2 separate regions of the Homo sapiens genome follow, and region 2 is linked to region 1. The links come from fine-mapping of genetic effects on gene expression. Tissue or cell type: whole blood. Region 1 holds a variant in brackets; the other region holds the start of a gene. All regions are shown on one strand. Distances are from middle to middle.

The links. PIP is the estimated chance that this variant, and not a neighbour inherited with it, causes the effect.
Region 2: LINC02019 starts here. The variant in region 1 is fine-mapped to the expression of LINC02019 in whole blood (TOPMed, PIP 0.98).

Annotation. Positions count from the first base shown.
Region 1 is chr3:50,645,428-50,650,928 of GRCh38, forward strand. It overlaps MAPKAPK3 (MAPK activated protein kinase 3), which reads left to right. Exons shown (of 11, transcript NM_001243925.2): 7 at 283-358; 8 at 713-837; 9 at 1,313-1,398; 10 at 1,696-1,776; 11 at 2,467-3,864. The coding sequence ends at 2,619. Among named protein-coding and RNA genes, the nearest start is that of LINC02019, 21 kb to the right of the region's middle. RefSeq lists enhancers at 1,651-2,150, 3,642-4,195. The variant A/C (reference allele first, on the strand shown) is at 3,340.
Region 2 is chr3:50,666,364-50,671,607 of GRCh38, forward strand. LINC02019 (long intergenic non-protein coding RNA 2019) reads left to right here and starts at 3,076. Exons shown (of 2, transcript NR_183733.1): 1 at 3,076-4,813; 2 at 5,008-5,244.

The DNA of each region.
Region 1 (5,501 bases):
CTGGCCTTCTCTTCTCTTCTTTCACCAAGGTTGAGACTGGTAGAGGGGCTCAGGCCCAAGGGAGCTAGGGGTATGTCTGAAAGTGGTTGATTTTTTTCCAGGAGCTTTCTCCTCCCCCAACTTCACACACATGCTGCCTTTCCAAAAGGTGCCAGACGCCAGTCTGCTCTGCCCTACCTCCCAGCCCAGGTACCTGCTCCCCACCTTGCCCAGGCTTTAGGCTCCTGCCTGGGCTCCAAGACCCTTGGGTCTGAGAGCCCTGCTGTCCCTCTGCCCTGGCAGCCCCTGAGGTCCTGGGTCCAGAGAAGTATGACAAGTCATGTGACATGTGGTCCCTGGGTGTCATCATGTACATCCTGTGAGTACCTTCCCCACCCCCTGCCTCCATCTCCTGCCCTTACCCCCACTGTGAGCCCTCAGGACCACTTCTGTCCCCCCACCCCCATGTCCTTGGTGAGGAGCTTGTGTGTGTCACTCCTCATGCAGGCTGCCCTTCCCTTTTGGTCATGGGACACCACTCCTTCAGGTGCCTGAGGGTCTCCCCATGCCAAGGGCTGATGGCATTCCTGGGATGTGCCTGGGAGTCCGGAGGGCTGGTATTATTGCTATGGTGTCTGGTTGTCTGTCTCCCCAGTCAGGGGCTTTTGAGGGGAAATGGGTCCACCCTGGCACTGCTCCCACCCTATGCCAAATGACTTACCCCTTCCCCCAGCCTTTGTGGCTTCCCACCCTTCTACTCCAACACGGGCCAGGCCATCTCCCCGGGGATGAAGAGGAGGATTCGCCTGGGCCAGTACGGCTTCCCCAATCCTGAGTGGTCAGAAGTCTCTGAGGATGGTGAGTGAACCTCTCTGTCCCAGCCTGACTCACCTGGCCCCTGCGGCTTTCATTCTGGGAAACATCACTTTGGTGTCAAACTGACCTGTGTTCAAATCTTGGCTCCCCCTCTTTCCAGCTATGGGACCCTAGGCAAGTCCCCTAACCTTCTTGAGCCTCAGTTTCTACATCTGCCAAACAGGCTCAAAACTTGCCTCCTCAAAACTCCCTCTAACTCCTATTCCTCATTCATATTTTCCCCTTTGAGGACCACAAACAAGGCTGCCCTGTATGAGTTATCTACTGCTGCTTAACCAATTATCCTGAACACTTAGTGTTTCAAAACAAGAAATAGTTGTTAGCTCACTCTTTCTGTGGGTTGGGAATTTGGGAGCACATGCAGCCCCTGCCCCAGCAGAGCTTGTGGTCTGTGGGGAAGGGTGGAGGGGCTGGCTCTGCAATCTCATCTCTCCCCTCTCTTCCCTGGCCCCCCTAGCCAAGCAGCTGATCCGCCTCCTGTTGAAGACAGACCCCACAGAGAGGCTGACCATCACTCAGTTCATGAACCACCCCTGGATCAACGTGAGCCCCTCCTCCTCCCATGGCAGGCAGGGTGTCCAACAGGAGTGGGGCTGCCGGGCAGGAGGGTGGTGGCTCTGCTTTGAGGCCCCAGTGCAGGGCTGGAATGGGCCCATGCACACAGGTAGATACTAGGGCCTCACCTACAACCTGGCTTTGTCACTGCCCTAGTGAGGCTCCTTCCCCACCCTGAGCCTTGGTTTTTCCATCTGAGTCTGGGAGAAGAGGATGGAGTAGGGGGAACCAGTGCTGTCCCAGGTGCCTCCAGTTTCTAATCCACGGGCGTGGGGCTCCTTCCAGCAATCGATGGTAGTGCCACAGACCCCACTCCACACGGCCCGAGTGCTGCAGGAGGACAAAGACCACTGGGACGAAGTCAAGGTGGGTGGGCTCTGCCTCAGTCTCAATACAGGTGCCAGGATTTGGGCAAAAGGGACTTCAGGGGGGTGGCTACCCAGGGTCTGGGGTCTTTGGCCCCTTTCTATACCTGGAGCACAGGGTGTCAGTGACTGTCGCAGTGGTCCAACCATGGCACTCCAAGGATTGGGCCTCACTACGCCATTCAGTGTGGTGCTCCTGGCTCACTTCCTCAATGAAACGGGGCTTTGGTACCAAGCTTGGATGATGACCTCTCTTATAACCAACAACATTTGGGAGGGTGGTCAGCCTGGTTTAGACCCAGCAGAGGCCACGTTTGAACATATGGAGTAGCAGCTCCAGTGGCACAATCTCCAGGCCCCAGTGCGCTGGTTGCCCAGCGAGATGGCATTCTCTGCAGGTCTTGTGGTTCTGTGGTGGAACTGGTTTAGTTCACTATCCCACTTACCCTTGGTGTGGTCCGAGGGAGTAACTCTCCTTTTGTGCCTTAGTGAATAAGCTCAGTGTCTACCACAGAGGACGGTAGTGAGGATCATGTGATGCAAAGGGCTTGGCCCAGTGCTGGGCACACAGTGGGCACAGAGGCAGCACAGGCTGTCACTGACATTAAGGGGCTGCCCAGGCAGGGGGGTGATGGTTCCTAAGGTCAGTACATCCTGACCTCTTAGTGCCCACCATCCTGTCTGTCCCCAGGAGGAGATGACCAGTGCCTTGGCCACTATGCGGGTAGACTACGACCAGGTGAAGATCAAGGACCTGAAGACCTCTAACAACCGGCTCCTCAACAAGAGGAGAAAAAAGCAGGCAGGCAGCTCCTCTGCCTCACAGGGCTGCAACAACCAGTAGCTCATGGGGCCTTGGAGGAGCCTGGCCTCTCAGCCTGCATAACAGACTGAAATGTGCTCAGGCCCTGGCCAGGAGGGCCCAGGGTCATTCTTTTAACAAAAGGATTATTTTGTTGTGTTTTAATTTGTCACTCGGAACTTCAGGATGGAGGACCCTGACCCTAAACCTCCTTCAGATCTCTGGCCCAGGCTCAAGCCCTAGAGATGGGCAGGGCCTAGGGGCTGGGAGCTGCCTGCTGCCATAGCAGCACCTTTAGCTAGGTTGGCCCGAGTGAGGCCTCTGTGCTGTCCTGCCCTGGTGCATGGCCTTAGCTTTCTAGGCCACTGGGAGTTGTGGCTGGGCTTCCCATCTTCCACAGAGACATCTCCCTGTGGGATGGGCAGATGGGCCTGGCCTTGAGAAAGGCATTGGCCATTGGTTGCCATGGTGACCAGGGACCACGTTGCTGCCTGTGAATGCTGAGTGAGCGAGTAAGGGAGGAGGGGCGATTGAGGGTTCACCTCTGCCTTGGGGAGGCTGATTTCTCACACACTGGCTGGCCCTCTCATTCTCACTCCTCCTTGGGCCCTGAGGCTGCTGGATCCGGTCTGCCTGCCTCCCTGTGCAGTCCAGCCCTGCCTTGCTGCAGCCCCAGCCCAGATGGCACTCAGCGCTCTCCCCTGAGGGAGTCCCTGGGCCTAGCCATCCCCTCACTATTCCCGACCCAAAGGGTGACTTTTC[A/C]TCTGAACTTAAGGTGGGAGATATTTTTAACTTTTTTCCACTTTGGAAAATGTCACTGTGACAAAAGCCAGCATACTTTCCCTGCACCCATCTGCTCACCAGATCTCAGGCAGGAAAGCCCCTCTCTGTTGAAGTCAGGGGCTATCTTTTGGTATACTTGTGTGAAAGTGGCTGGTTGGGAGCAGAGCTAAGTGGCTTCCCATTAACCTGAGGTCTCTTTCTTTACTCTGGGTCAGACCTGAGGTTGGGGAAGGCGACTGAGCCATGCTCAGAATGTCTGGTCCTGGCTTGGGCCTGAGTAGGGCAGAGAGGGCCTTTCCTGGCTGATCAGAGCTTACCAGCCCCACCCCACCATGGTAGCCTTAGGGTGCTGAGTGCCTGATACTGCCTGACAAGTGCCTGACACGCAGCCTAGTTCCTTCCTGGCCCCTCTCTCACTGGCTGGGAAACCCTAGACCATGTCAGATAGGACAACACTGCTGGGTTTTACATCCAGATAGTAATAAACACCATTTCATCATTTTCTCTTGGCTCCTGGGTTTACTCTTTGTCTACAGGGGTGGACAAAGGTGGCCCAAGGGCAGCTTCTCAGACCCACTAGTGATTTCACCCCAGCTGGAGGGGGTGCCTCAGGCCTGATAAGCATGCCATGCTAACTCCAAGGCCAGAGTCCTCGCCAGGCCTAGAAAGGTCAGAAGAGCTGAGGGATGGCAGCTGCCACATGCCCCCAGCTCTGTGCTGCCCCTGTGCAGTGTGTGTGACACCTACCCCCGGTCCTGTGTGTGCCAGCATCTGCCCAGAGTGGCCACCCCCAGCTGTGTGCCAGCCTGCTGAAGGGCGGGCAGAGTGCCTGCTGCAGCGCTGAGCTATTTTCAGAAACTGCCAGATTTCATTTGGCAGTGAGAATATCGAGGAGGGGAGGGGGCGGCATGCTGCAAGACTGTCTTTTGACTACTCCAGTAAGAGAGCACTCTCACCCCTCCGGAGCCCTTGTGGGTAGCTTCAAGGAGGGCCCTAACTGTGGCATTTCTCTCCCAGCTCCTATCTTGAGAAACCTCCCAGTTTTCCAAGAGCTCATCTGCTGCCTGCAGCGCTCTCTCCTCCACCCCCACTTCCTTCAGGGCGTGGGGGAGGGTGCAGAGATGCTGGAAGGCAGGGGACAGGCAAACACGCCTGAGATGTTCTGCTGCTTCCCAGCCTGGTGACCTTGGGAGCTTTCTTGGCCTCAGTTTCCTCAGCTGTGTCCTGGCGATGATAATGCCCATCTCATGGAGTCATGTGGGGGATTTGAGCAGATGATGTGTGTGAAGTACTTAGTGAGGTGCCAGGTGCGTGGCTCATGCCCCACACTCATTAGCTACTCTAACATCCTTAGTCATCAGGAAGGAGAGAAGTATCTAGAGTTATATCTAGAGTATCTAGAAGTCTCTAGAAGAAAAAGCAGCCCCAAGTCTGCCTCAGGAAGGAGAGAATATCTAGAGTATCTAGAAGTCTCTAGAAGAAAAAGCAACCCCAAATCTACCTCAGGAACTTTCTATCCAGACAATCAGGGCTTCCTCACCCATGGGGTTTCATTTCCAAGGGCCTGCTCCCCAGAGCAGCATCATGTGGGCCTCCTGGGCTTTGTTTCCAGTACTGGGCTTCCAGGAGGGTAGCCAGATAAATTCAAGAGACTCCATGGAGCCTGTGGTTCAGCCCAGCCTTCCTAGTATACCCTACATTTGGAGGAATGCTGGCCAGATGCAAAGGTAGATGTAGTCCATCTAGTCTCAAAGCTGTGGAGGCACAGATGGCCTTCCTTGCTTGGCTGCCAAGCATCCAGTGTACCTGAGATGCTGTGCTGGGTGCAAGGAAGGCTGCAGTGAGAACTTCAGACAGGGAGTTCACCTCAAGGTGTTTACATTCATGCGGGAGAAGGTGAAAACATCACATGTTGAAAAATGTTAAATTGGCCGGGCGTGGTGACTCACGCCTGTAATCCCAGCACTTTGGGAGGCCGAGGCGGGCAGATCACAGAGTCAGGAGATCAAGACCATCCTGGCCAACATGGTGAAACCCCATCTCCACTAAAATATAAAAAGTTAGCTGGGCGTTGTGGCAGGTGCCTGTAATCCCAGCTACTCGCGAGGCTGAGGCATGAGAATCACTTGAACCTGGGAGGC
Region 2 (5,244 bases), 21 kb after region 1:
CCTTGGAGTAGGTGAAGAGGACTCCCTCTTAGCAAGCCCTTCCTTCTCCATGCACACTCACCCCAGTTAAGTCTAAAATTCTGTTCTGAGGACCTCATTTCCCTATGGACGCTGGTCTGAGTGTGCAGGCAGAACCATGGGAGCAAGCAGGGATATAACCAGTAATATTCACTCAGGTCTCAGTCAGGAGGGTGGCAGGGCCTTTCCCGAGGGCAGTCTTCCATGGGGGTGCAGGGCATGAAGGCACAATTGCCTTTGGTGCCTCTGTACTAAGATCAAGGAGAGAGTCAAACAAGAGGTTGGGATGGCATAGACATGTTTTGCTTAACTCACAATTGTGTCACAAGCCTCCTTTGGGCTTTTACTGGACTGATGATAAGTGATTGGATTATCCAAGACATGGGGATTAATTATTTTGGGCTGGACAGAAGAGTCCATGGACAGAGCTAGGTTACAAACTCCACTGCTCCACTGGCTGTTGCTTTCTGGAGGAATGTGAACTCTCATACAATTTGGAACCCACCTGGTAATGCCTGGATTCCAGAGCTGTGGGTGCACACACATCATTGCACCGTGTAGAATTAGAAAAAGATTTATCTAAAAATAACTACTGAGGAATATCTAATTTGATAGCAAGACTATGACTAATCCATGAAACAGACAGTCTGTGTGACAAGACACAGTACAATAATGGGGAGAAATTCATGTTTGACCTTTAAGCAAGTGCAAAATGAAACAGATCTATGCCTTGGCAGCTGAGGACCCTGTGGCTCTAGGGAGAGTGGCTGTGAGCAGGGGGTTTGATGGTCATGGAGGAGAACTGATGCAATATGTAGTTCTCAGGGGTGCTGCATCATGGAAATAGCTTAGGGAAATCAATTTCTTTTGGTGTTAAATAGAGAGAAGAGGCTCATGCTGAGTTAAGTGCTGGCTGGTAAGAGGCAGACGCAGGAGGCCAGCCCAGCTGCGCAGGGGTGACCAAACCAGCTCTCGCAGGCTAGCTTGGAGGAGAAGCAGATTCCACAAATGCAAGGAGACCCAGCATTTCTGGGAAGCAATTTGAGCTGGTAGGAGGGGAGCAAGGTTCCAAAGTTTAGTGAGCATTTACCTTGTGCCGGGCTCTGTGTTGAGAACTTTGCAGGCATTATCCTCAGAAGCATCCCTGATGTAGAAGCCATTCTGATTCCCACCTGACAGGAAGAAACTCGGTTCAGAGGGATTAAGCTACTTGCCTGGGGTCACCCAGCTAGGAAGTATCTATCTGGAGCTGGATGTGAACCCAGCTCTGACTCCAGAGCTCTCAAGTTCTATTCCCTGTTGCTAGGTCACCTGAAACTTGAAAAAGCCTGAGGCTGTCAGTGGGCTGGAGTGACAGACTGGGGCTGGGACAGGCTGGGTGCAAGTGAGGTTTTGGCAGGGGCCACCCCATGATGAGTTCTCATGAAAAATTGCCATGGCTCCTGGAATGGCAGGTTTCTGAATCAGGATCACTTCTCTGATTGTTCCATAACTCATAACTGCATATTATAAATTCTGATCCATCACCCTCAATGCTAATTGGAGAACAGAATAGTCCCCATTTCTTAGAGTTGCTCTTCTTCAGTGGTGACAGAGTGAGTACTATTCCTGCTGCTCCCTGGGTCAGGGCCCTGCATGTTCCGAGTACAAGTCCTAAGGTGTGATCTTGTGAGAGAATTCTCTAAAGATTTCTCTTTTTTGGCATCCTGTATTAAATGTTCCTCAAGGAAGAGATTAGCAGTAATCCTTGATCAGATTCAGGGCCAATTGCTTGTTGGTGCCCCTGGCAACATTCTTTCCCTGGACCCTTAGCATGGGCAGGGGTGTGAGGGACAAGCAAGGTGTTGAGACCACAGCTAAAGCAGTGGGTCACAGAACCTGGAGAGTGGGCTGTGTAGGGAGGTAAGCTGTGCTTCCCCTCCAAACCCGGGAGATGAGCGCTGGAGCCTGGCACAGATGTGCCATCTTGAGAACAAAGGAAAGATTGGCTCAAGGAGGAGAAAGAAGCCTGGAGTGGTCCTGTGTGAGCAGTGGTCCTAGATGCTTCTGCACAGACTTTGTTGGTGCTCAGAGAATTGGGGAATGTGCAGTGGTGCCTCTGAGCCCAGGACTCAAGAGGATAGGCCTTTTCCTAGGCTGTTCCCTCAACAAGCCCAGGATCTCCTTGAGGGGAGATCATGTTCTTATTCATGTCTCTTATCTCTGCTTCTGACCCAAGGTCTGTCAATGGCTGGTTCCCTAATGTCATGGGACGTGGCAAGGCCCCAGCGGCTGCCCCTATCTTCCACTCTAGTCCGCACATTTCTCCCCACTCCCCACTTGCTCGCTCACACATCATGTCCTGGTCACACTGGCCTTTCCATTCCTTGGATACGTTAAGCTCCTTCTTCACCAGATTCACCTTTCCCAAATGCTGCTTGCTCTGTCTAGAACACTTTTCTCTTCTTTACTTGGCTAATTTGTATGTATTGTCAGCCTCCAGTTTAAATATCATTTCCTCCAGGAAGTCTTCCCTATTTGCAAACTAGGTCAGAATCCCTGGCTGAGGCTCCCTCTGTACATGTACCCTTTCTCTTTCTCTTCTTTCCTAGTACTTGTATCTCTCTTCGTTTTTTTTTTTTTTTTTTTTTTTTTTTGATGGTGTTTTGCTCTGTCACTCACGCTGGAGTGCAGTGGTGGTGCAGTCTTTGCTCACTGCAACCTCTGCCTCTGTCTCCCGGGTTCAAGTGATTCTACTGCTTCAGTCTACCGAGTAGCTGGGACTACAGGCACCCACCACCACACCTGGCTAATTTTTGTATTTTTAGTAGAGACAGGGTTTCGCCATGTTGGCCAGGCTGGTCTCGACCTCTTGGCCTCAAATGATCTGCCCGCCTCAGCCTCCCAAAGTGCTGGGATTTACAGGCGTGAGCCACTGCACCTGTCCTTGTGTCTCTCATTAGATATTTGCTTGTGTGATTATTGGTTCAGTGTCTCTTCTCCCAACTAGATGCTAAACTCCATGAAGAGAGGCTGGGTGCAGTGGCTCGCTGTTTTTTTTTTTTTTTTTTTTTTTTGCTCTGGACCTGGCCCATAATAGGTGCTCAATAAATTTTTGGTAAATAAATGATTCAAACTTTTTACACTTCAAGATAAAAAGTATGAAAAGCTGGTGGGGATAAAGTCTCGGTTCTTTTCCTAGCCCCAGTCCCATAGCATTTCAGAGATGGGGTAGGTGGTGCTACACTACTCAACAGGCTTTTGTTTTTTAACTCATTTAACTCAAGTGAGTTGGTGAAGGCATTCAATTGGTGGTTTTTTATGTATAGAGAAATTACCTCTGTCCTGATTTGGAATATCTGTGCTATTTTGGGCTGTTTTTCTCTTTTGGGCCTGTTTGTATTGTAGCAATAATTTCACCATTTGGCTATGCAGAGGCCCAATTAATATTACAAATGTGGTCCTATAAAATGTGCTTTTTGACATCAGAACGTTTTGTTGCTAATTACTCTCCAAGGTTTTTAATTTCAAGCCCTCCTTGGTGACTTAGTGCAGAAATTTAAGGACATAATTATTTCCCCCCAAGGGAAAAGAGATCTAGGTAATGCCAAGTTTCTATCTATTTGCCCTTCCTTCCAGGGGGTATCTTGTTTTTGATTCTATCTCCGCCCTTTTTCCTGGACAGAAAATAAACATGCAAACAAAAACCCTATTGGAACAAAAATATAAATTTCTGGAAAACATTAAAAGCACTCATTTACTAATGTATTAATTAAAACAATATTTACTGAGCACCTACTATGTGTCAGATGCTGCATGCTAGGCACTAAAAATAAAAAAGAATATAGCATGGTGCTGTCTCCAGGTAGCTCACAGTCAAGTGGGCAGCAAGCAAGTGCTGGGAATTCTCTGACACATCTGGAAACATCTGGGGGTGCTTCTCATGGTGGGGCTTATTCATTAGAGCCCATCCAGAAGTGCCACATCAGTCTCCACGAATTAAAATCAGGAGAGCTTTGGCCATTTCTCATTTGAAGACCTTGGCTAACTGAAAGAAATCCACATTTTAATAACATTTTGAATGGGTTGATAAAATAGGAACAGATGGTTAAAGTTTGTCATTTTAGGGAAAATAATGAAATATTGTACTGCTTAATCTGTCTTCCTGTCACACTCTTCCCTATCCCCTCCCTACTGAAAATATATTCAGATGCAACAAAACTTAAAGCAAAATACTAATATCTTCTTAGACACTTTAGGTCTCTTCACCTGAAAGTGCTCTAATTGTGTCAGCCATCTCTGTGTTAACTTTATCTTTTTTTTTTTTTCAGACACATTCTCACTTTGTCACCAGGCTGGAGTGCAGTGGAGCAATCTTGGTTCGCTGCAATCTCTGCTTCCTGGGTTCAAGTGATTCTCCTGTCTCAGCCTCCTAAGTAGCTGGGACTCCAGGCGCATACCACCATGACTGGCTAATTTTTGTATTTTTAGTAGAGACGGGGTTTCACCATGTTGGCCAGGCTGGTCTTGAACTTCTGGCCCCAAGTCATCTGCCTGCCTCAGCCTCCCAAAGTGCTGGGATTACAAGTGTGAGCCACTGTGTACAGCCTTTGTGTTAACTTACTTTGAATTAGCCCCTTATTCCAAAGCTGCCTCCTGAAAGGAGGCTTCCTAAAAGGTGTTGCTTTGGGGTAAATAAGAGGTGCTGGTGAAGTGAGACTAGCTTGCGCATCTCTCTGCCATGAAGGAAACTAGCTCCGCAGACGTTTTACTAACCACAGCAGACCCCCTCCTTGAGGAACCCAGAAGGGCAGAGGTAAGTTGGGTAACGTGTTCTTAAGTCTTCCATTTACCTGACCCTGGGGTTCATATGGGGATAAGCTCCAGCTGCTGACACCTTCTGATCAAGAGAAGGCAGAATGTCACCACTATCACCTGCACTTTGTTTGGATTTGCCTCTATACCCACTGCATTTCTCTGATGTTTTTTTCTACCATTCTGTTTGGACAGAGCATCAGATGAAATCAACTGCTGAGAGAGGGAAGTGAGTGCTGTGTTGGCACCGCTGCCAGAAACTCTTGAGAATGAGCATCGTGTGCCACTTATCCACTGCTTGCCGACTTCAGTAGCAAGAGCCTCCAGAATGCTCATGGATAAACATCATCTTTGTGGCCACACATTGTTTTATGAGCTGAGTCATCAGACTGGCTGGCTCCTTAAATGCTGCTGTGTGATTCTCTAGGCAGC